Regions from separate parts of the Homo sapiens genome. Here regions 2 and 3 are each linked to region 1. Evidence: fine-mapped expression QTL. A gene starts in region 1. Each other region holds a variant in brackets. All regions are shown on one strand. Distances are from middle to middle.

Evidence for each region.
Region 2: its variant is fine-mapped to the expression of FAM149A in skeletal muscle (GTEx, PIP 0.98).
Region 3: its variant is fine-mapped to the expression of FAM149A in adrenal gland (GTEx, PIP above 0.99).

The regions. Positions count from the first base shown.
Region 1 is chr4:186,101,349-186,109,528 of GRCh38, reverse strand. It overlaps FAM149A (family with sequence similarity 149 member A), which reads right to left and starts at 4,825. Exons shown (of 14, transcript NM_001395294.1): 1 at 3,887-4,825. The coding sequence starts at 4,452. LOC124900171 (a long non-coding RNA gene) reads right to left here and starts at 1,835. Exons shown (of 2, transcript XR_007058421.1): 1 at 1,794-1,835. RefSeq lists a silencer at 4,846-4,905.
Region 2 is chr4:186,148,442-186,156,621 of GRCh38, reverse strand. FAM149A (family with sequence similarity 149 member A) reads right to left here. Exons shown (of 14, transcript NM_001395294.1): 2 at 7,339-7,449; 3 at 6,918-7,056; 4 at 4,577-4,719; 5 at 2,852-2,977; 6 at 1,984-2,154; 7 at 432-622. Among named protein-coding and RNA genes, the nearest start is that of FLJ38576, 39 kb to the left of the region's middle. RefSeq lists a silencer at 6,489-6,684 and an enhancer at 6,703-7,902. The variant T/C (reference allele first, on the strand shown) is at 4,889.
Region 3 is chr4:186,138,594-186,146,773 of GRCh38, reverse strand. The region is part of intron 1 of FAM149A (family with sequence similarity 149 member A); the gene reads right to left. Among named protein-coding and RNA genes, the nearest start is that of FAM149A, 38 kb to the right of the region's middle. RefSeq lists enhancers at 2,021-2,521, 2,522-3,022. The variant C/TCC (reference allele first, on the strand shown) is at 3,376.

The DNA of each region.
Region 1 (8,180 bases):
TCAGCTAGCAATCGGTTTGAGGTGGAATCCACCTCGTCTGGTTTCCGGGTCTACAGGCTTCATCACACTGGAGGCTGCCTCAGTGTCAGAGGAATCGAGATAAGTCCCTCTAGTCACTTTACTGCCAGCCATGCTGACAGGCCCTTCAAGCAGCCACTGCAATGTTTCCACAGTAATGTGATTTTAACAATGGAACTCAATCACTCAAAAAAAAAAAGAGTGAATATATGCTTGCTAATAACTATGACTTATACAAGCTATAAATACTTCCTGACTAGAAGTTTACACTCTACCAACATTCATACACAGCAATTATCTATCTATCCACCTTACGTATTGCTAGGAATTCTTACATTTGCAGAACAAATAAGAGAATAAGACCGGCCGGGCGCGGTGGCTCAAGCCTGTAATCCCAGCACTTCGGGAGGCCGAGGCGGGCAAATTACAAGGTCAGGAGATCGAGACCATCCTGGCTAACATGGTGAAACCCCTTCTCTACTAAAAATACAAAAAATTAGCCGGGCGTGGTGGCAGGCACCTGCAGTCCCAGCTACTCGGGAGGCTGAGGCAGGAGAATGGCGTGAACCCAGGAGGCGGAGCTTGCAGTGAGCCGAGATCGCGCCACTGCACTCCAGCCTGGGCGACAGAGCAAGACTCCGTCTCAAAAAAAAAAAAAAACCAGAGATTGAGAATAAGACCTTTACAAGGTGTATTGTGTGGTTCAAACCAGAAGTATGAAAAGAGGTAATGAAGAGGGATGAGTGAGACTGAAAAACACTGAGGCATAATATATACATGAAATGGACAGGGAAGCCAAGGTGAAGATCAAAGGTGTTGGATCACGTATCCAGGGATGCAGGAAAGTGAGGTGAAGACAGAGAGATCAGTATCCTCTGCCTCTGGCTCAGATGTGCAGTCAGTACGCCCTGTGGAGCAAAAGGGGCAGCCTCTGTTCCATGGGCCTTTCACTTACGGAATTCTTGGGTCAGAGATTAAAAACCCCTGCTGCTATTCAGCATCTTTGCTTGGAAAAAAGCCTCTAAATTGCAGGAGAGTTTGCATATTTTCCTACTCAAGTTAATTTCACTACTTTTAGTTTTTTGTTTTTTTTTTTTAAAGCCAAGTACAGAATCAGGCAAATGTAAAATGTATGCGTTATTGTCAAAAAAGTACAAACTGCTAATAGGGTTTTCCTTTAGAACTCAGGGCCACAGCTTTAAAATTAGATCCGCATTTCTTGCAGACAGGTTTACGGTTTCCTTTATATGTATTCACATTCTCATCACTCTTTAAACTTTTTCTCTGACATTACCCATTTCTCCCTTTCCAAGTTTCCAGGCTTTTGAAATTTAAATTCCTGATTTTAATATTAACCACACAGGCTAACAGCAGCAGCTATCTGCCAAGTGACAGATGAGATGGTAGGAGCAAATTTAAATTCATTGTCTTATGTTTGTTTATTCGGTGTTATAAATCACTACCACAGAAATCCAGGAGGGAAAAAGAATCCTTCAAGGTGCAAAGTCTGCAGTATTGAAAGAAAAGCCGTCTTAATACTTTCTTCCTTCCCCTTTGTCTCTTATGTTTTAGTGATTGAAAAAGGAGTGGGGTATGATGAGAGGAAGGGAATGTGAGTAGTCGTGGATCTGAAAGGAAAAATGGTATGCTCAGAGGGCCAGTCTGCTTCCTGCCTGTGTGTGCCTCTACCTGCTGCTGCAGACAGTAGGAACACACAAACTCAGGAGGATTCTGCAAAGCACCTAGCTGTGTATATTACTTCTCATGGCACTTACCTAAAATTCAATTTCATGGCCAGATGCAGTGGCTCATGCCTGTAATCCCAGCAATGCCCAGGTGGGAAGATTGCTTGAGGCCAGGAGTTCAAGACCAGCCTGGGCAACATAGGGAGACCCCGTCTCCACAGAAACATTTTTAAAATTGGCCAGGCATAGTAGCTCACACCTGTAGTCCCAGCTACTCGAGAGTCTGAGACGGGAGAATCAGATCGCTTGAGCCTGGGAGGTTGAGGCTGCAATGAACAGTGATCATACCACTGCACTCCAACCTGGGTGACAGAAGGAGACCTCATCTCAAAAAGTAATAATAATTTAAAAATTCAATTTCTTCACTGTCCATAAAATTGAATGCATTTGTTAATTCAGAATAATCTCTTATGTAAATAATGCCAAATGCAGTGTTATTCAAAAAGTATCTATTCCAAATATTTGCACAATATAAACATGAGCTAATATGTTCAAGAATTGAAACTAACACCAGTTTCACTGGCCATGCTGCATATTTCAGTGCCTATTTGTTAAAAGCACTAAGACTAGAGTTTAAGGTCAGTGTGTAGATCTGTTTGCTCATAAAACATTAATTGCATAAATGTTAAGGACCAGTTGCCAATAACAAAGATCTAATTCCTCAGGCATATGTATTCCAGTGAGTTTTCCAAAAGCAATTAACTGATAGGGAAAACTATCAGTTGATAAACATATGTCATAATATAGTATTTTTTAATGAGTGGGAACAACTTTTTGCTTAACTGCTTATTTTCTTTTTTGTTGTTGTTTTTTTGAGACGGAGTCTCTCTCTCTGTCGCCCAGGTTGGAGCGCAATGGTGCGATCTTGGCTCACTGCAAGCTCCGCCTCCCGGGTTCACGCCATCATCCTCTTGCCTCAGCCTTCCGAGTAGCTGGGACTACAGGCACGTACCACCACGCCCGGCTAATTTTTTGTATTTTTAGTAGAGACGGGGTTTCATCGTGTTAGCCAGGATGGTCTCGATCTCCTGACCTCATGATCCGCCCGCCTCGGCCTCCCAAAGTGCTGGGATTACAGGCGTGAGCCACCGTGCCCGGCCGCTTGTTTTCATATTGACATGAATATCATTCAATTTTGTGAAACTGTAATTATTTAAATTGTGAGTGAGTCAGGATCAGTATGAATGCAAAAATTACTCAGGATTTTTTGGAGGGAGTAGGGAATGGCCTCACTAGATTACAATGCAGAAACCTCAGTCTGTGAATTGGCTCATCTGTCTTTGACCATTTCACTATTTCTTTGCAGCATTCAGGATGAAAATTTACCCACTCAAGAATAGCTAACGATATGCTCCACTCTAAAAATTAAAATTCATCCTAGTTCTAAAACACATTTTAAAAGAGCAATGTTTTTATCACGACTCTTGGAAGTGAAAGGGGTGTTGTGTGGGTGTGTGTGTGTTGAGGGAATCGGCCTCCGATTCCCAGTGAAAATGTTCCCATGAAGTCAACGTTTCTGCAGTGACTCAGGGCACTGTGGAAAGCTCTCAGGAGCTCTAGGGTAATAATCAGACGTGTCCTGGCCATTACAACTCCATTTGTGTCAGATGATGTCATGCATATGTAAATTAACTAGATGTCACACAAAGGAGACCCATCCCACTTAGGATAAGACTAGGGACTGGTCCTTAGACATTAGGAAAGCACCAGGTCTCACCACTTCTTAAAACACTTGCTGCAGACGTGTGTATTCGGTTTCCCTGCACACCTGCTATATTCTGAGACAAAGAAAGGGACTTCAAAAAGTCCTTAAGAAAACCAAACAAACACTCTAAGTAGCAATGCTTCTGGTAGAAGAGAAACAAAATTCTGTCCCTTCCTTCAAGGCCCCTTAGGATTCACTCTGAGAAAGCTGGACAAAGCATGTCACAGCTTATGTCTGAAAGCCCGCAAAGCCAAGGAGTAAAAACCCAGGAAACGTGCAAGGAGGGTGCCCAGGGGGTTATGAAAGTTACTACAAATATTTCATTTCCTGAAGTGCACCTGCGAAGGTGAGTGCGGCAGGCGGAGGGGTCGGGGGTCCCGGCAAAAGGTACACGCGCCCGGACCACGCTGCTACTCACGCTTCGCCATCCCCGGAGTCGCCGTCCGAGGCCCCCTCCTCGCCGATGTCAGGCAGCGTAAGGAACAGGGTTCTGGGGCCAGCCCCGGGGGCCACGCAGGCGCCGAGCTCTCGCTCTCCGGGGCCAGGCTGGAGCGGGTTCCTGGGGAGCGCGGCCCAGACCCCGCCGGGGCCCGAGGGCGGCCGCGCTGGGACCACCAGGCGAGCAGGGGAGCAGCCCCCGCCGGAGGGAGTGGGGGGCTGGGGCGGGGCTTTACCCGCTCTAGGGCTACTGGGCCAAGAGAGCAGGGTCCCCACTGCTCCCGCGGCGCGGCTGGCGGCGGAGCCCCGGGAGTAGGGGGAGGAGAGCAGCGGGGCGGGCGACCGCCGCGAGGCGGAGGGGGAGTCCGGAGCCAGGGCGCGGAGGAGGGTCGGGGCGGTACCCAACGGGGTGCCCGCCCTGGAGCCCCCCGACCCTGCAGCGGCAGCACCTCCCGAGGGTCTGGAGGAGGGGCCTGCGGGGGGCGCCGTCGAGGTCTCGAAGAGTTTGGCCAAGAGAGACCCAAGGTCCAGCACAGCAGCCTTCATGCCTCGACAGTGGACACGCCGTCCTCGCCGCCGCCCGAGAGTTCAGACCGCGGAGATCCGGCCGAGGCGGCCCGGGCCGGGGCGAGGAGCCTGAGGTCCCCGCACCCGGAGCCCCGGAGGCCCCTGGCTCCCTCTCCTCCCCGAGGACGCTCAGCTCCGCGCCGCTGGGGTCGCCCTTCCCCGGCCCGGGTCCGTCCGCCGAGCGCCCCGGCTGCGGAGAGCAGCCCCGCCTCGTCCCAGCGCCGTGAGACCCCCGAGGGCCGAAGGGCCAGGAGCCCCGGGAAGCGCGGCCGCCGCCCGCCCCAGACGCCCGCCGCCCGCCGCCCGCCGCCCGCGGTTGCTACGTTCAACACACCCGGCCGCGCTCCAGGCTAATTGGGCCCCAGGTGCGGCTCGGGCTGTGCCCGCGGGGGACGTCCCACTCCCCGCCTGGTTCCGCCTTAAAGGAACACGCCCCCATTTCCCCTGCGCCCCGAGCCTCGCAGATCCCATCCGCCGAGCTCAGGGCCCAGGGCTGGGAAAGAGAATCCTGGCTCCAGAAGGTTCTGGAACTTACCCAGCCTGACAAGCTTGCACGTGCTGGGGTCAGGCCACCTCTCTGACGATAGGGAAGGTGGGTAGAAAGATGTATTTGGGCGAACGAGCTTGAAACAGCAGCATCCACTCCCCCACCCCAGGGTCCTACTCAAACCCTGTTACTAAGGGTGGGGTGGGAGCAACCGCGAGGTGCGCCACCCACTAACCTGCAAACAAGACCGGCTCTGAGAGCTGAAGTAGAAAGACCTACGCACACCTGTTTAAACACCTGTCGGAGTGAACCAAGAGACTGTGTAATTCAAATGTTTGAGAACTCAAATTATAATCGGAACGACTACAAATTCAAAGACAGATATGGAAGGCAACGTTTTCTATTCAGTGGAATAAATTGTATTTTGCTTAATCTGAAAAATATGTGTGAAAGGTAGAGCGTATAGGTGCGAGCATCTAAAGGGGTGTGGGGTCAGTGTTGAACAGAGTTAAAAAATAAGATACTGCAGCCAGGCTCGGTGGCTCATACCTGTAATCCCAGCACCGGGATTGGGAGGTGGGAGGATGGCTTGAGCCCAGGAGTTCCAGGCCAGCCTGGGCAACAACATAGGGAGACCCCATCTCTACAAATATTTAAAAAAAAAAAAAATGCCGGGCCTGGTGGCGCATGCCTGTAGTCCCAGGTACTCGGGAGGCTGAGGTGATCGCTTGGGCCTGGAGTGAGCCGTGATCGCACCACTGCATTCCAGCCTGGGCAGTAGAGTGAGACCCTGTGTCAAAAAAATAGTAATGAGATATTGATGGAGTTTGTCCATTAATATTCAGGAGAGGATCTCAGGAGATACATTTCCTGATGTGGGGTAGGGAAAAGAGATGAATTAAGTCTGGCAGTGAATAAACTGACATTCATGCTTATATACTTGAATCTTTTGTAAGTTATCAAACTGGAGTCTGAGCCACGGTAAACTTCCAGGTAATGCTAAGTTTTGCGTTATTTGGAGGCAGTTAACAAGTCTTCTGTCATGATCCCTTTTCTACATCTAACTGCCACCAACATGTACTGGGCACTTGTCTGCTTCAAGATTGCATTAAGCACAGACATGCAAAGAAAGAGCGGTTCTCTTCCCAGAGCATGGAATAATCTGCTTCACGTCATATGCTGAGTGTCCCGTGAGTGCCCTGGAAGACAAGCACAGGTGATGGCAGCCATCGTGGTCAACATTCGCTTGGGGACAGCAGAGCATTTGTGTGCCTAAGGGAAGTAAGAGACATGGGTGACTAGGGTGAGATTTTAAAGGCCCTTGGATGTTCGGAGAGGCGAGAGCACGCAGTCGTCAGCGTGTGAAGCACCAGCACACAGCGAAGAATCAAAATGAGAGAAAAAGGGAATTAAGAACAGACACCTCTGAGAGCAGCAATGGTAACAAGAGGGAGAGGGTTGGGGGCAAACCAGGGAAGCAGTGCCAACTCCGTCACAACGCAGAGACACCAGGAACAGGCTGCTGTTGAACCATGAACTTTTCTCGTGCTCCCTTGTTCCCCTTCTGCAGCACTCACCAGGTAGCCTCAGAAGTCTGGACGTTCCCTCCGAACACTGGACTGTTTTCATGTAGCACTCATTCAGGACTGCAAAGCAGTTTCCCACAGATTTTGTTCATCTTACAAGGATCTTATTCTGATTCATGGAGTAATTAAATCCTTAATATATCAGGTCACTTTCAATGCAAATAGAAGTTATTTCTAGAGTATGTGCTTTCAGTGAGTAAGGGGCTAGTCGCTCCATTGAATCTGAACATATGGAACTTGAAATAACAGCAAGGGAGGGCCATTGTGGAGCAAAGTTCGAGTCAGCTCACCTAGATCCTTGGGGGTAGCACTTGTTTGCTGCCAGAACTCAGGATTCCTGATATTTCAGACTCAGAAATCTGATGGGCCCAGCACCTTCACAGCTGACCAGTGTCTCTGTGTGGAGCCCCACTAATCTGACTCACAAAGCACTGATGCGGCCGGGTGCGGTGGCTCACGCCTGTAATCCCAGCACTTTGGGAGGCCGAGCGGGCGGAGGAGGTCAGGAGATCGAGACTATCCTGGCTAACACGGTGAAACCCTGTCTCTACTAAAAATACAAAAAATTAGCCGGGTGTGGTGGTGGGCGCCTGTAGTCCCAGCTACTCGGGAGGCTGAGGCAGGAGAATGGCGTGAACCTGGGAGGTGGAGCTTGCAGTGAGCCAAGATCTCGCCACTGCACTCCAGCCTGGGTGACAATGCGAGACTCCGTCTCAAAAAAAAAAAAAAAAAAAAAGCACTGATGCAGTGTTCCATCCTCTGCTCTTTCCCCATAAGAGGAATCCCTTTAGGACCAAATTAATTCCAATGGTTGTTAGGTGAGTGTGGAATCAAAGCAAAGGGAAGGAATCATATGGTTCACATACAGGGGGCATTAACCATTAGAGTCCAGCACCCTTCTCCTTCAGGAGCAACTGTTCCTGAACAGTGGTGCATTCATGCCGCTGTCTTGGGCTCTCTGGTTCTAGATCTTTCCATGTTTCCCTCAATAACCACTTCTCTTCTATGGACAAGCACTTTGGGAGGCTGAGGCAGGCAGATCACTTGAAGTCGGGAGGTCAAGACCCGCCTGACCAACATGGAGAAACCCCATCTCTACTACAAATACAAAAATTAGCTGGGTGTGGTGCCGGGTCCCTGTAATCCCAGCTACTTGGGAGGCTGAGGCAGGGGAATCGCTTGGACCCAGGAAGCGGATGTTGCGGTGAGTCAAGATCGTGCCATTGCACTCCAGCCTGGGCAAGAAGAGCGAAACTCCGTCTCAAATAATAATAATAATAATAATAATAATAATAATAATAATAATAATAAATAAAGCTAGAGAACAGCTGCATACCCTTCCAGATCCTGGCCTTGAAAGCATTCTGTCTCTAAGGTGTGTCTGCATGTGTCCCAGCTGTGGGCACATTTGAGTTGTGTGCCCCCAGAAGATGTGTTGAAGTCCCACCCCCAGTTCTTGTGAATGTGATCTTATTTGGAAATAGGATCTTCACAGATGTAATCAAGTTAAGCTGAGGTCAGTAGGATGGGTCCTTGTCCAGTACGATGCGTATACTCTTAAGAAGAGGGAGATGTGGGCACAGACACACAGGGGGAGCACCACAGGATGACAGAGGCAGAGGCTGGAGTGAAGC
Region 2 (8,180 bases), 47 kb before region 1:
TGCAATCTCAATCTCCACCTCCTGGGTTCAAGCAATTCTCCTGCCTCAGCCTCCCGAGTAGCTGGGATTACAGGCACATACCACCACGCCCGGCTAATTTTTGTATTTTTAGTAGAGGTAGGCTTTCATCATGTTGGCCAGGCTGGTCTTGAACTCCTGACCTCAGGTGATCTACCTGCCTCGGCCTCCCAAAGTGCTGGGATTACAGGCGTGAGCCACCGCACCCAGCCAGCCCTGCATTATTTTTTATAACACAAAAAACAATAGCGTCCTTTTTGAAGGGACTAAAGAGCACTCATGAGTAAAGTCAGAACACCCACTTGTCTTCTCACTGGTCACGTTCTAGGTCTGGCCAAGCTGGGGAGCAGGAGCCCAGGGCCGAAGAACAGGGACTTTTTCTTTTCATTAAGCTAAATTCTGCATGTAAGTACCTGTGAGTGTAGTTTCCCAGTGTTTTCTAATCAGCTCTTCCAAAAGTTCTACCATATTTGTCCAGACGTGATCAAACACTTCTGCTGCCACGGCATCTTTGACACAGTCACGCGGGGAAACAGGAGGAAGTCCGAGTTTGCGCCATTTCCTACCGGGCTGAGCTGGTTTTTGTTCAAGACATTCATCATCACTAAGAATAAAAACCCACTCCAATTACTAAAAGATCAATGCTTAGAGTTAAAATAATTCTATCTACACACATTCACGTATGTACATGTATACATATATTAATAAACATTCTTTGTTAAACAGCATCGTTCTTTTTTAACATATATAATTTTTTTCCATTACACATGAATAAAAACAAGAAACCAACTCCTGGTTTCATTGATCTTTCTTTTTTTTTCTAGTCTCTTCATTTATTTCGGCTCTGAGCTTTGTTATTTCCTTCCTTCTACTAAGTTTGGGCTTAGTTTGTTCTTTTTCTCATTCCTTCAAGTATAAAGTTAGGTTGTTTATTTCAGATATGTCTTTTTTCTCAATGTAGGCATTTATTGCCATAGGCTTCCCTTTTAGAGCTGCTTCTACTGTACCCCATAAGTTTGGTTTTAATATGTTGTGTTTCCATTTTAATTTGTCTCATTATATTTTTTGATTTCCCTTTAGGTTTCTTCTTTGACCTACTGCCTGGTTGTTGAGGAGCAGGTTGTTTAGTTTACACATATTTGTGAGTTTTCTAGTTTTCTTCCTGTTATTGACTTTCAGTTTTGTACCACTGAGATCAGAAAAGATGCTTGATTTCAGTCTTCTCAAATGTGTTAAGACTTGTTTTATCAGTGTTACTTTTTAATGTGCCAATTTTCAATCACGGGGCAAAGTTTTATCATGTAATAGTTGTAGTTTTTGATTAAGAACAAAATACAAGGCTGGGCACAGTGGCTCACGCCTGTAATCCCAGCACTTTGGGAGGCCGAGGCAGAAGGATCACGAGGTCAGGAGATCGACACCATCCTGGCTAACACGGTGAAACCCCGTCTCTACTAAAAAAAAATTCAAAAAATTATCCGGGCGTGGTGGTGGGCGCCTGCAGTTCCAGCTACTCGGGAGGCTGAGGGAGGAGAATGGCGTGAACCCGGGAGGCGGAGTTTGCAGTCAGCCGAGCTCGCACGGCTGCACTCTAGCCTGGGCGACAGAGCGAGACTCCGTCTCAAAAAAAAAAAAAGAACAAAATACGAATTTAGTACAGAGGCAGGAACTCCCCTTAGGCCCTTTTGGGCAGCCAGGGCTGGGGAACCTGGAGCCCCCAGGACCAGGGCTGCGAGGAGCCTTGTCTGCTTTTACAAGGGCACTGAACACCCTCTTCGCTGCTCCCGCACGTGCACCGCTGGCTAGGAATCCAAAAGCTCTGGGGAGTACATTACTCTCAAAAGAACAGAAATCTTTTGGGTGAGTAAAAAATACACAAAACACTTAATGAGCATACGATAACAATAAATGTCAAATAAATTAATATTATTTTATGAGGTCAATGTCAAATAAGATTCTATTTACTCCTCTTTTCTGTCAAAAGCGAAATACTCCTCAATCTTTCCATCCACATGGTAAACCTCTTCTTCCAGGGATGAACGTGCCGTTAGGTCAGCAACCCCTGTGTCATCAGGGCCTGGCAGGGCAGAGGCTGAGAGTGCTGCTGGGACTATTTGAGAGCCAGAAATGCACAACCTATGGGAAAAAAACAGATTCTACATGGGAGTTTATAGAACACCAAGAACGCAATGCTTAAACGATCATGGCGGATCTTTCAATTATCTGTAAAGTACAGAATCCCCCCCTCCCAAAACGGTTGAATATTACATTGGACAAAACTCACGTCCTTAAAAACACTTTAATACAGGCATCATTAAACATTTTAAGGGCTTCTTAAAAGCCTAAATTATTCTATGAGTTTGTACCCTCTTTGGTTGCAGTGAAAGGACTGCATTGTGTCACGGCACACCAAATATGTGTGAATGGCATAGAGTCATCAAAATCTGCTAGTGAACAGAAACGACAGGACAGAGCTTCATTTCTCCTGCTGCCACCGCCTGGAGGCTTATAATCCATCACAGTGAGGCGGTTTCCATCCTGCACCCAGTCCACCTTTCACAGCGCCTTTGGAACAAACATGGAAGGTAACTACCATGTGTGTGCATGTGTGTTCCATATATATATTACACATCTCTCTATATACACACATATACACCTATCATCAATTCAGAATCAAAAGCTTCTTATAAAAATTGTTCTCTGTACCTGCCCTTCATCAGAATCTAAATTTCCAAAATGGGTGGAGCCAAGGCTTATAGATGAGATAAACATGAAAAAGTATAACTAAAATACAGCTAACAATACTTTTTGAGAGTCACTTATCTGAACATACTCTCTGATGTTGCTGCTGTGTCCGCAGGCACTGAGCGGGGGTCTGTGGACTGCGGAGGCAGGAGTGCTGCCCTGGAAATGCTGGACGCCTTTGTCAGTGGGCAGGATCAGCTGTCTTCCTAATACTCTGCGAGGTCAAAGAGAAGCTACTGACATTTTTGATCAGACAAAGGGAAAATGTTTGGAGATTTTAAAAGTAGGAGACAATGATTTTGAAGGCATGTGTATGATAAGATGTGTATGGGAACGTGGGAAGCATCACGCATCACAGAAGTGTGACTTTGAGAGTTTAGGCCAGACTGTTCTTCCACTGACTCAGTCTCAGGCAAGGTTCTCAGGCTAATTTCATTTGTTTGTCTTTCATTTGCAAAACAGGATAATAATGGTTACCTTGCAGGGCTGATGAATGGCTTAGAGATCATATATGACAGACTCAGGTGTCTAAGGCAACACTGGGCACAAAGAAGCCCTCCATACATATTAACTAATACACAGTTAAACACAAACATAACAAGAATACAAATATATAAATATGCACACTTGGCTTATGTACCTGACAATCTTTTCCCACCTTCCCTCCATTTCTATCAATGATGTAAGACAGCAGTGACAAGAATAAGTGTGAGCTCCCGAATTTCTGGTGAGTGATCATCCCCAGAAAAGTGAGTATCCACAACTAGTATCTAGTGGACATATCATACTCTTTAGGGCAGGTGGCTTATTAAGGGTTGAAAAGAAAAAAAAAAACAACCCTAGTTGGTCAAGATTTCTGTAAAAGTTACCTAGTGAATGTAACCAGGAAATCCAGCCACATTTACATGAGTGTTCTGATTCATTCTCCCCAGACAGAATCCACAGGAACTCAGGTAACTTTGATAAACTGTCCCCCAGTACGTTGGCTGAGTGACTGAAAGATAAGCTTGCCTTTGGCCGGGCGCGGTGGCTCATGCCTGTAATCCCAGCACTTTGGGAGGCTGAGGCGGGCGGATCACGAGTTCAGGAGATCAAGACCATCCTGGCTAACACGGTGAAACCCCGTCTCTACTAAAAATAAAAAAAATTAGCCGGGCGTGGTGGCAGGTGCCTGTAGTCCCAGCTACTCGGGAGGCTGAGGCAGGAGGATGGCGTGAACCAAGGAGGCTGAGATTGCAGTGAGCTGAGATCGCGCCACTGCACTCCAGCCTGGGCGACAGAGCAAGACTCCATCTCAAAAAAAAAAAAAAAAAAAAAAAGCAAAAAGAAAAGAAAAGCTTGCCTTCATACCCAATCCATATTCTCCATCTTTGATATGAAAAGTAACACATGCTCCTCCCTACATAAGGAATGGGTGAGATGGGAAGACCCATCTATCCAGCCGTTCAGCAAATCATCTCTGCCCACCCTCGCTGTGTTCTGTGATGAAGACAGACATGTGCTGCTCACACACAGTGAATGTGAAGGTAAGAGGTGGCCTCCACCATTCTTGCATTCGTATATGTGTCATGCCCTTCTCAGGATGGCCTGAATTTGCTTCTCACAAATTAAAAGGCGCTTGAGTACTGGAATGTCTCAGTATTTCCTCAGACGCCGTAAGAGGAAAGTGATCTCTCAGTGAAGGACTGCGCTCTGCATCCATATTCTGACTGGGCAGGCACTTTCACACCAAATGTACTGAATGTATCGAGGCAGGTCAGGGGTGGGTGCTTGGAAAACCCACCCCAGAGAACTTCCACCACCAAGGTCCCACCTCAAATGGAGGGATCTTCTTGTCCACTCCCCGCATTCGGCCAGCAGACTCTGGGTCTGAGGGTTCACTTTCCCTTCAAATAACATTTCCTCCACCTCCCAGAGTAACCGCTGCACTGACTGTGAACTGGCTTCGTCAAATTCCTAAACAGAAATGCACACTTGGTTACAACACTGCAAGTTACAGAACTGCGGGCTTCTGGATCAACGCTACTTATACATTTACTGTCACCCACTATGTAGGAGGGTGCATCACTTGGTAAAAAGATGGTGGCTTTGCAGTCAGACACACCTGTGCTCTAGCTGTTACCTT[T/C]CTGAGAAATGCCATCTCATTCTGAGCCTCGGATTCTTTTACTGTTAAATAGAGAAAACTTCTGCCACGGAAGTTATGAGACTCAAGAATTTGCATAGATAGAGGTATAGATGGACGTGTTCATACTGCCACAGACATCAGCGTAGACACACAGACACGTCCACATCTGTATGTCTGCAAACACAGGCAGCTCCTCACAGAGCTGTGCCTGACACACCTAAGCACACCTGCAAAATACAAGATTTTTTTTTCTTCTGGTGATACCACAGAAAAGAAAATTACTTTTGTAGAAAAGGCCATTAATCTCCTTAAATCAATGAACTGGAAAAAAAAATCCTTAGTTATCCTAAGAAGTGTGGTTATTAGGGTGAGGCCTGAGTATTAATGGAAGTTATACGAATTTCCCTGGTAATTCCATTAAACGTTGTACTAAAAGAATCCTAGAATTTGGACAGAGTAAAGCAGTGGTGCTCAGCCTTCTACCAAGGAAGGCGGGCTTGAGGGATGGTGGTGAGTGGGCGTAAGGGAGAGGAAGGAGGCAGCTGCCCCTAAGTAAGGGAGCTGCGTGCGTGAAAGGTCCTCCTAGCAGTGCTGAGCTGAGTCCCTTTCAGACCCCCTCGGTGCACCTGCCCTGCCGGCTCCCCTGAGAATCACAGCTGCACAGCTGCGGACAGAAGCGGATTCCCATGTGCAGTGGGAGTGGGGAACCACTTTTAAAGAAAGCAAAGAGGCTGGGCGCAGTGGCTCATGCCATGGGAGGCCCAGGCAGGCGGATCACAACGTCAGGAGTTCGAAACCAGCCTGGCCAACATGGTGAAACACCGTCTCTACTAAAAATACAAAAATTAACTGGGCATGGCGGTGCACACTTGTAATCCCAGCTACTCGGGAGGCTGAGACAGGAGTATTGCTTGAACCTGGTAGGCGGAGGTTGCAGTGAGCCGACATGGCACCACTGCACCTCAGCTTGAGTGACAGAGCAAGACTCTGTCTTAAAAAAAAAAAAGAGAGAAAAGGCCGGACGCGGTGGCTCACGCCTGTAATCCCAGCACTTTGGGAGGCCGAGACGGGCGGATCACGAGGTCAGGAGATCGAGACCATCCTGGCTAACACGGTGAAACCCCGTCTCTATTAAAAATACAAAAAATTAGCCGGGCGTGGTGGTGGGCGCCTGTGGTCCCAGCTACTCGGGAGGCTGAGGCAGGAGAATGGCGTGAACCCGGGAGGCGGAGCTTGCAGTGAGCCGAGATCGCGCCCCTGCACTCCAGCCTGGGCGACAGAGCGAGACTCCGTCTCAAAAAAAAAAAAAAAAAAAAAAAAGAGACAGAGAGAGAGAGAAAGCAAGCAAGCAAAAAACAACAACAACAACAACAAAACACCCAGCATAAACGAGGTAAAACAGAACACCCAAGGTGCTGCAGCCAGGTGGGCCTTAAAAAGGAGGGCTGTGTCCTGGGATCCACGGAGACCCTTGGAGGGAGGGGGAGGGAGGAGACTGGAGCCAGTGAGCTCCTGAGCAAGCTGGAGCAGTGGAGGCAGAGCTCGCCCAGCCAGAATCCCAGGCTCACACAGACAAAAGCAGTTCAGAGGCAACAGCGCCCCCAGCGGTAGGGGGTGAAGGTGAAATATCCGACTGGGAATACTGGCGGGGAGTTCTCTAATCACAGTGGCTGCCACAGCTTTTACTTTTCCAGCATTTCTTTCTTATTCAAGTCCTGAATTTCCGGCCATGGATACCATCCAAGAAGTCACAAGGAGCACACACCCGGAGAGCCGGCTGCAGGGTGGAAACAAGAAAACTGCGGGCAGCTAAGACGGGGCCAGAAGGTCACGAGGGAGTTCTGTTTTCCTCCACGGTTCGTGATCTATTATTTTCACATGTAACATGTACATGCTTTTACATGTATGTACATGTATGTATGCAATAGGTCATGCTTTTATAATTGGTAAAAATAATTTTGAATATAAGGAAGCAACTCTTCACTATAAACTGTAATTACAAGATTATCCAAAATATTCTGAGACATACGTCATCTCTCCAGGAATAAACGGAGCCCCTCTCCGTGGATGAGCCGGTGGTAGAGCTCTGTGTGGCCGACCCAGACCAAGAGGTGTGGGCTCCCGTGGGTGTATGGCTTCCGCTGGAGGAAAAGGATGACAAGGATTTGCTGCAGGAATGAACATGAGCAAAGAAATCACATTTGCTGGAAGGGCTTGGATGGCTAAGTGGCTTCACTTTTCTGAGCCTGCTTCCTCTTTCTTTCATTAAATATATTTATTAATTTCACAGTATACTAATTTTGAAATATTTTTACAGTGTGATGTTTACACTAGGTTAAAAATAAAACTGCATCTTACTTTTAGAAATTCATGGCCAGTCACTAACTTCCTTCCCACATTTGTTACGGGCATTTTGTGATTTTGTAATCTGAAGCAAGGTGAATTCTTACCAGGTATATTTATCAATGGCTTTCTGCACATTTCTTGTAAAATGCGTAGGTAAAGAATCTTTGCTCCTCACAGTAAAACCGTGCCTTCTACGTCCTTCTGACAGTCCTCTTCTGGAAATAAAATAAAACATGACGAGTCTCCCTAATGTAATAATATAGTTTTATTCATTAAGACTTTTAAAATTTCTCTTTTATACAAAGTTGCTCCTCTCGTTCTGCCACATCCCTCCAAACCCACCTGTGCATGAGCGCACACACACACACACACACACACACACACACACCCCATCCTGATGAAACTGAGACTTAGGATGTCATCATTTTTCTTTTTCTTAAAATCAAGGTTGCCATTAACCTATATGTACCTTTATGTGAACTGAAGACAACATCAACTTTTTGTGACTCAGCCAGAGAAGGAAAAGTTGCCCCAAACAGTTCACAGTATTTCAGGGATTTCAGGTCCCAGTTGTCCCTTGACCAGGGACAAGGGACTTACTTACAAAACCCAACCACTCCTCCAGTAAAAAAATCATTAATCCCATATTAATTAAGAAACATCAAATTCTTTAGACTCAGAAGCCACACAGACACCTAACTTGCTTTAATCTAGCATTGCTGTTTGTGGGTATACTGAGTTTTCAAGAGTTAGAAGATATTAAAATTTAATGAAGAACTAAAACAGAAGAAATATCTAGATGTTAAATAAACTATTAAGCCTAACTGGTGTAGCACAGTTCCTGTTAATCATTGAAATGTCCTTTCAATGAACCGCTTAAAACATTTACTTCCTCTAGTCAAAATATCTTCCTGATGTTTAATAATCAACAACTTCTGTTCTTCAA
Region 3 (8,180 bases), 37 kb before region 1:
AGACACTATTGGATAACGTTTTACTCGTTAAAAAGTCACAGCTCTTCTTTGGGCAGCTGATATTCCCCCAAATGGTTTTCACCGCCAAACGGAGCATCTGCTCTGCTCAAGACGGTCTATCCTGCTTCTAGCTCCTCCTCCTGCTTTTGTGCAACTTTGAAGCCAAATTCAAAATGGGACGCATGCGAGTTTGTTTCAATGAATAATTTATTCCTCTAGGAAATTCACTCTTTTTCAGGGGAAAGGGTGGAAGCTCTTTTCAAATTAAGGAGAAAATTATTTACAAAACGGAGGAACTCATCTCTCTTCACATCACACCACATCCTTTCCAGGACCAGGCTTCCCACTGTCTTGGACGCAGAGCTGAGCCCAGGAGGTCTTGGGATGCAGGGCAGGGGGAAATGGGAAGTTGGGTAACAGTCACACCAATTATTACGAATTAGGTGCCTTAAAACTCCCCTACTCCATGCCATTTCTCCCTCTTTTTTCCTCTCTGACCTTCCCCTCTGTATCTCCTTTTAAGCAATTTCTTGAGCTTCAGAGTTCAGTGTAATAACATACAAACTTGACCACACAATTCACAAAAAAACGAGGTGAACAGGAATTTAAGTCCGTAACTCAATGATTGCCCAAGAGCACAAAGAAGATAGGGACAGAGTTTCTTCGAGGAACCAGGCCACTGACCTGCCTGTCTCTCCAGTGGCACAAGTTACTAACATCATGAATTAACAGCAGAGCCTACAAAATCCCTTTCTTGTCTTTTTCTTTTTTTTTTTCTCTTTCACATCTTGTTTTGGTTCTTTGGTTTCTCTGTTCTCTAACCAAGGATTGGTTACTGGTCCCTCATGCATAATGTTGAACCTCTTTAATCCCCTATAAACTATGGACTAGTTCTGTATCCTACACAGTCTAAGAAAGTGTACACAACTTACAGGATGCATCCCACAGGTATTTTAAAACTTGAATATGGTGGCATGTCCATGAAGCTTCTAAACATAGACATGCAAGTTCTATACTAGTTCCTGTCCATACTGTTTAAATAGAGCAAGGCTGTTGATTTGGGGACAGGTCTTCGTAGGGTGGACTGAAGTGCAGTCACTAAACTAGACTGCACTCATTTGTTGGCGCATGGAGGTTAAGGGTGAGTTCCAATCTCCATGACTCCATTCCAGCTGTCAGGAAAATCATCATCCAGAGTTACTGTTTTAGGTTGCTTCTTGACAGCCCACAAACCTCTGCCACACTGCTTTGTAGAAATTCTAATGTCAGTGACAGCAGCTTTCAAAATTTTCTATTCCTAGTTGACAGGACTGTCTGACATAAGCACTGTACTCTGAACGGGTTAAAATGCAGGCTGGTTTTCTGGATGGGGGGACACACAGGGGCACTCCAGGGTGGCCATGGGAAGCCGCTCCTCAGCACGGAACACTCACACCGCCCTGACCCAACACCAGCAAGTCCCAGGAGCGACCGCAGTGACGAAGGAGTCCCTTTGGCGGCGAACGCTTCCCCGCGTGAGCCATGCCCGGGGCCGGCCTGACGCTTCCCGAGTGCCTGCAGGGAAGCCCGGGCCAGACGCAGCCGGCCCGCGGGCGGAGAACACCGCGCACATCGCCTGCAGAGCGGCCAGAAGGCGAGCCCTGCTGCCGGATGAGACTCACCCGATTACGATCAGCCCCGGGCCTGTGCTCGCAGCCCCCGCGCCAGGCTCCGCGCTAGGCTCGGGCACCGTCAGGCAGAGGCACCGCGCGCGGGCCCCACGCAGACAGCCGGTCACGCGCCCCCGCGGCCCCGGGGCTGGGGCTCCCCACCCGCCCGCGCCCGCGCCCGCGCCCGCGCCCGCGCCCGCCGCGCGGCTGGCCCAGCTCAGGCGGCCCGGGCGCGCCCGGGGTCCGCGGGGCTCGCACGCCCCTTCCCTCTCCAGATCCTCCGCCCCGCCCGCGCCGGCGCCGCCTCCCCTCCTCCTCCCTGCGCTGCGCCCTCGCCCGCCAGCTAATCCCGGCTGCGCCCGCCCATCCCCGCTCCGGGCCCCGGCCCCGGCCCCGGCCCCGCGCCGACCTCCGGGAAAGCGCGCCTTCCCCGCTCCCTGCCGGGCCGGGTTTCCAACCCAGCGGCCACTCCTCCGCGCACGGCCCGGCCTCCCTACTCCTTCCCGGGTCTCTGGGGCCGGGGGCTGTGCATACTGGTGCTGGCTGCCCTTCTCTCTTCCAAATCGGATTTTAATTCACCAGAAGAAGGCAGAGAACCACAGGACCATCTCGCCTATCCCCGCCCCATCAAAGGGTGCGCACACCAGGCTGGGGTGGGGAGTGGACGAATGAGGTTTAAAAAATGAAGCCCCGGATCTGGTCAATGCGAGAACCATTACTCCATCAACAGGAACGCTAGATCTAAGCATGCATACTAAAGACGTGGACCCTTCCACGCCCGTCCTGCCCTACCGGCTCACACAAGCCGGTGCATCTCCTGCACACCCCGAGCATGCCTGCCGCTTGCGTTACCATGTGCTCGTTTCAGTTTTGGAGGCCCAGGATTATACCAGGAGCAGAGCAGCTGGACGCTCTCCTGTGAGCTGGTGAAACTGCCAAGCCGTCATTTTCACATGCTAAGGGAAGAAGGGGTGAGGTCGCGGAGGTGAACTACATTTTTGAGTCTCAGAGGGTGGGCACTGCACGAGGCATGCCTTTCCCACGACAGGGATTTTAGTAATGACAGTTAGTGCACTGGGTGCCGGTACAACACTCATCCCCGTCCTGCCGTAGCCAGTCTCTTTTGAGAGCTGAGGCCATCTAAGTTTCAACAGGTACAATTTCTCCTGCCAAGTATCCCGTATTTACAGAGGTAAACCATGTATTTCCGAGTTTTTACTAAAAAGCCCAGTTTATTTCTGATGCACCACCCTAGCACGGTGACAAGAAATCACTACCAATAACAAAAACAGTAGTCCAGCCAGGGTGGCTCACGCCTGTAATCCCAGCACTTTGGAAGGCTGAGGTGGGCGGATCACTTGAGATCAGGAGTTCAAGACCAGCCTGGCCAACATGGTGAAACCCCAGTCTCTACTAAAAATACAAAAATTAGCTGGGTGTGGTGGTGCGTGCCTGTAATTCCAGCTACTCAGGAGGCTGAGGCATGAGAATCACTTCAACCTGGGAGGCGGAGATCGCCCCACCCACTCCAGGCTGGGCGACAGAGGGAGACTCTGTCTCAAAAAAACAAACACAAACAAAACAGTAATCCATTGTTGAACTAAGAACACTGGAATCCTCCCCACTTTTATAAAAGTGGTAAGTGGTTATAAATTATAAAATTAATGAGATTTTAAATCCTGATACATGTATATGTGTATATGTGTGATGTGTGTGTATGTGTATA[C/TCC]ATATCTATCAGGAAAACTATGGTATCTTAAGCCCACACAGACTTGCTGATATTATTTATATTGCCAGGGGTGGGAGGATGGGCATGCCAGGGAAACAAAAGAAAGGAGTCTGGTGTGATGGCTCCCACCTGTAACCGCAGTGTTTTGAGAGGCCAAGATGGGAGGATCACTAGAGCCCAGGAGTTCAAGACCAGCCTGGGCAAGACAGCAAGACTCTTGTCTCAAAAAAAAAAAAAAAAAAAAAAAAAGTAAAAATCGAACACAAAGTCATTTAAGATCCAAACATATGCTAGCTGCTTTTACTTTTATATATATTATTTTACATATATTCTTACATATATTTAACACCCATAGTAGGTAGACACTATTATTACAATTTTGTTGATAAAAATACTGATGTCAGAGACCTTAAGTAACATGTTCGAGGTCACACAGCTAGGATGTATATGTGTGAATGTGTCCCAGATATCTATTACCCCATAACAAACCACCCCAAATGTAGATTAAATCAACAGTCATGTTGTTATGCTCATAATCCACAGAACTCAGGAATTGCGGCAGGTTGAGTGTTTCTTCTGCTCCCCGTGGGGTTGCTCAGTGGCATACAGGTGGAGGGTGGTCTGGTGTGGAGGCTCTAAGAAGGCTTCACTCATGTGTCTACACCATGCAGTCGGGGGTGGCTGGAAGTCTGGGCTCAGTTGAGCCTTCTCTCATGCAGCTTCAACACTTCTCTGAGTGGTCCCTCCAGTGAAGTCGTTGGAATTTCTACGTGGCAGCTTAGGGCTCCAAGAAAGCGAGGCAGAAGCCGTCAGCTCTATTCAAGGTGGCAACTGGCAGTGTCACCTCCACTGTACTCCATAATCAAAGCAGTCCCAGAATGAAAGAGATGGAAAATAGACCCCAGCTCTCAATGGGAAGAACCTACAGCCGTCTTTAATCCGCCATAACCGTCCTCTGGCCACAGGTCATTTACACATGCACGATACACTCAGCTCTTTCAAGATGCTCAGAAGTCTCATCATCTAAAGCATGTCCGCGTACAGATGAGGCTTCTGCTTGGGTATTTCCTTTACATCTGAAGACCTGCGAACTAGAGAGACAAGGCAACAGCCTTCTCCACACCCAACCGACAATGGTGAGACAGAGCCAGGACATCCCCAGTGGGCACCTGTCCAACAAGAGAGGTGGCGGAGCCAGGCAGCAGCCACTGCGGGTTCCAGCAGGCTCCTGCTGCCTTGCCTTGAGGAGGACTCACTTCTGCTTCCTGCCTTCTCCCCAGCCCTTAGCTCTGTCCTCTGGGCTGTTGCTTCTACCGAGACTTCCTCAGGGAAAAGAAATGGCCTAGGTTTGCAACTAAGTAGCCTCTCAGCCTGCTTTCCTCCAGGGAAGGCTGGGGAAGGGGGTCCAAAAGTCTGTGCCTCTTTTAGTTCAAGCCAGTGGCGCTTCCATCACTCTGCCAATACCTTGTGGGTTTCTTTGAATTTTATCAGAGTTCACCCCATCCATTAGTTACAAACCACACTGACCTGAGATGGGCCCTTGGTCCACCTTTGAGACTGCCGGGGGCCAATTCTCTTATGATTTTTTAAAGCCCTATTATCTTGGGGATCTATGAGACACCCCTAAATCTGACGTCTTGTTAAGCCAAACCTTTGATTTCACCTTTACCCCTGCCTAGGATTTGATCTTTGCACAGAGGCCATTTTTCAGTTTTGCCCAGAGAGACTGTGATGGTCAAAGTTTCACAAACCCAGCAAGTCTTGACTTCTATATTTCTTATGACTTCTGTTCAAAACCTGAACAGTTCCTTAATTCATTTGTCTCTTCTCTCAAATTTCAAAACCTAAAGCTATGCTGCTTGCTTAAAGATTAAAGTGATAAAATCTTCACGTTGGATTGGTTTAGACCACCACTGCCCAGTAGAAATATAATGTAAATACATACAATTTTAAATTTTCTAGTATCCACATTTATAAAGTAAAAGAAACAGGTACAATTAATTTTAATGATATATTTTAATCTAATATAAATTATCATTTTAACATGTAATCTGTATAAAAATTGGTAATTAGATATTTTTAATTTTTTTGTACTAAGTTTTGAAATCCAGTGTGTATTTTACACCAATAACATATTTCATGCATCCAACAAAGGTCTAATATCCAGTATCTATAAGGAACTTAAAAATACATTTGCAAGAAAAAAACAACCCATAAACAAGTGGGCAGAGGACATGAACAGACACTTTTCAAAAGAAGACATACATGTGGCCAACAATCACATAAAACAAAGTTCAACATCACTTACCATTAGAGAAATGCAAATCAAAGCCACAATGAGATACCATCTCACATCAGTCAGAATGGCTATTCTTAAAAATACCAGATGCTGGCAAGTTGGATCAGAACTACTTCACTGGCTCTCCTGGATCTCCAACTTGGCCATTCACCTTGAAGGCCTTGTGACTTGTCAGCCTCCATAATCAATGAGCTAAATCCTTGTAATAAATCTCTTTATACAGATATATACAAATATAGATGTAGACATGTATCTCCTATTGCTTCTGTTTCTCTGGAGAACCTAATACAATGTTACCTGTACTTAGTCCATACGATTTTCCATCTTTCATTGATTATTTAAACCCTAATTGAGAATTGAAAAGTACATAACTATTTCTATCTTATTGTTTAAGTGTTTTACATTTTAATGGCATGGGGCCCTGGGATCAGTAATTAGAGTCATTAAATGGGAGACCTCAATTCCTAAAATAATAGGATCTCCCTTAGCCTAGTTTGGCGAATTCATTAGGATAAAATAAAATGGTATAGGCTGGGCACAGTGGCTCAGCACCTTGGGACGCCAAGTCAGGAGGATCTCTTGAGCTCAGGAGTTCAGAACAAGCCTGGGCAACATAATGAGACGTTGTCTCTACAAAAAAAAAAAAAAAAAAAAAAAAGCTAGGTGTGTTCACATGGATCTGTAGTCACAGCTAATTGGGAGACTGAAGTGGGAGGATCACTTAGAGCCCCGGAGATGGAGGCTGCAGTACTCCAGCCTGGGTGACGAAGCAAGACACTGTCTCAAAAAATAAAAATAAAAAGTGGTATATGTGATTATGTGATCACCCTCTGAAAATTAATTAGTAATATAAGATATAAAGTTATTCCAAAAATTATAAGCAACTCCTCTAAAAATTGACCTGATTTCACGTGCTGGCTCTGTCTTGCCCTAGCCATGCAATCCTGAGCTGATAACTTAATGCTGTGAGCAGAAATTAGCTAAAACAAGGCTAATATTACTGTCTTCCTTGTAGAGTTGTGTGAATTAGAGACAAATTTTGGAAACTGCATATAGATACATAATAAATTGTAAATTATTCCTTTTTTCAGCATTTAAAGCATTGAGAGTGGTTTTTTTTGTTAGGTGGAGTATTAAACCAGTTCATTTTAATATTATGCAATATAATACACAAAAGTTACATACAGTTTTTTACATTTATCCAGTACGAGCAGTCCTGGCTTTACATGGGTATCATATAAACTGAAACTTGTGCATATCAGAACTGTGGCCTTGCTTTGCAAATACAAACATATACATACAACTATGTCATCTCTCTATACCATAGAGCTGTCTCCAGTAGCAATGAGCACCTCCAGTGCCTAGATCTTAGTTCCTAACACTGTCCTAGTCCATCTGGGCTGCTATGACAAAATACCATAGACTGGGTGACTTATAAACAACAGAAACGTATTAGGTGGATGCAAAAGTAACTGCAGTTTTTGCCATTACCTATCTCCCACAGGTCTGAAGGCTGGGAAGTCCAAGATCAAGGTGGTAGCAGATTCAGTGTCTGGTGCCGGCTCCATGCTTCCTAGATGGTGCCTTCCAGCTGTGTCTTCACATGGCCAAAAGGGTGAAGAAGCCCCCAGGGCCTCCTTCATAAAGGCATGAATCCCACTCACGAGGGCTTTGCAATCATGACCTAATCGCCTCCTAAAGGCCCCACCTTTAGTACCATTTCATTGGAGAGAGATTTCAACCTATGAATTTTGGGGGATACAAACATTCAGACCACACCAAATACTATTCTCCAATAGAGGGACCAGGGCTCCATGGAGGAGTGGCCGATTTGGGGGCTGAGGCAGGGCAATATAAAATGTACCTGGAGCATCTTGTACTGCCAGACTGTAGGAAAGTGCTCAAAAAACAAAAACCAAAACAACAGAAGAATGAGAGCATGTCACAGGAGCCATCCTGAAAGAGCCCCAAATGGCTAAAGCTAGAACAACCTGAGTAACAAAATACATCATGTGCTATCGGATTATAACTAAAGTACAAAATACATTTCTATGAGCCCATATTGATAGAAATAAACAAATAAATAAATAAATGGGGAGAAGAGGCACATTTCCCACAGAAGAACTCTACCCCAGTGGTGTGTGTCTCCCCTTCCAGGAGGCGGGCATCATACCTTCTTCTCCAAGAGTGCAGTATGGAAGCTTGACTCCAAGAGTGCAGTATGGAAGCAGGGGGTGACTTTACAGGGGAGCAGCCTGACAAGCACTCCCGGAGCCAGGTGGTCAAGGCTGGCACCATCCGTGATGTGTCATGTTGACACGCACCCTTGCAATGAGGCAATGAGAAAGGCACTTCCCTTCTGTGGCCTTCCCCCCCAAACCCATAACCCCAGTCTCACCATGATAAAAACACAAGGCGAACCCCAGCGGAGCGGCCTTCTACAAAACACATGACCAGTACTCCCCTAAACTGTCGTGATCATCAAAACAAGAAAGTCTGAGAAACT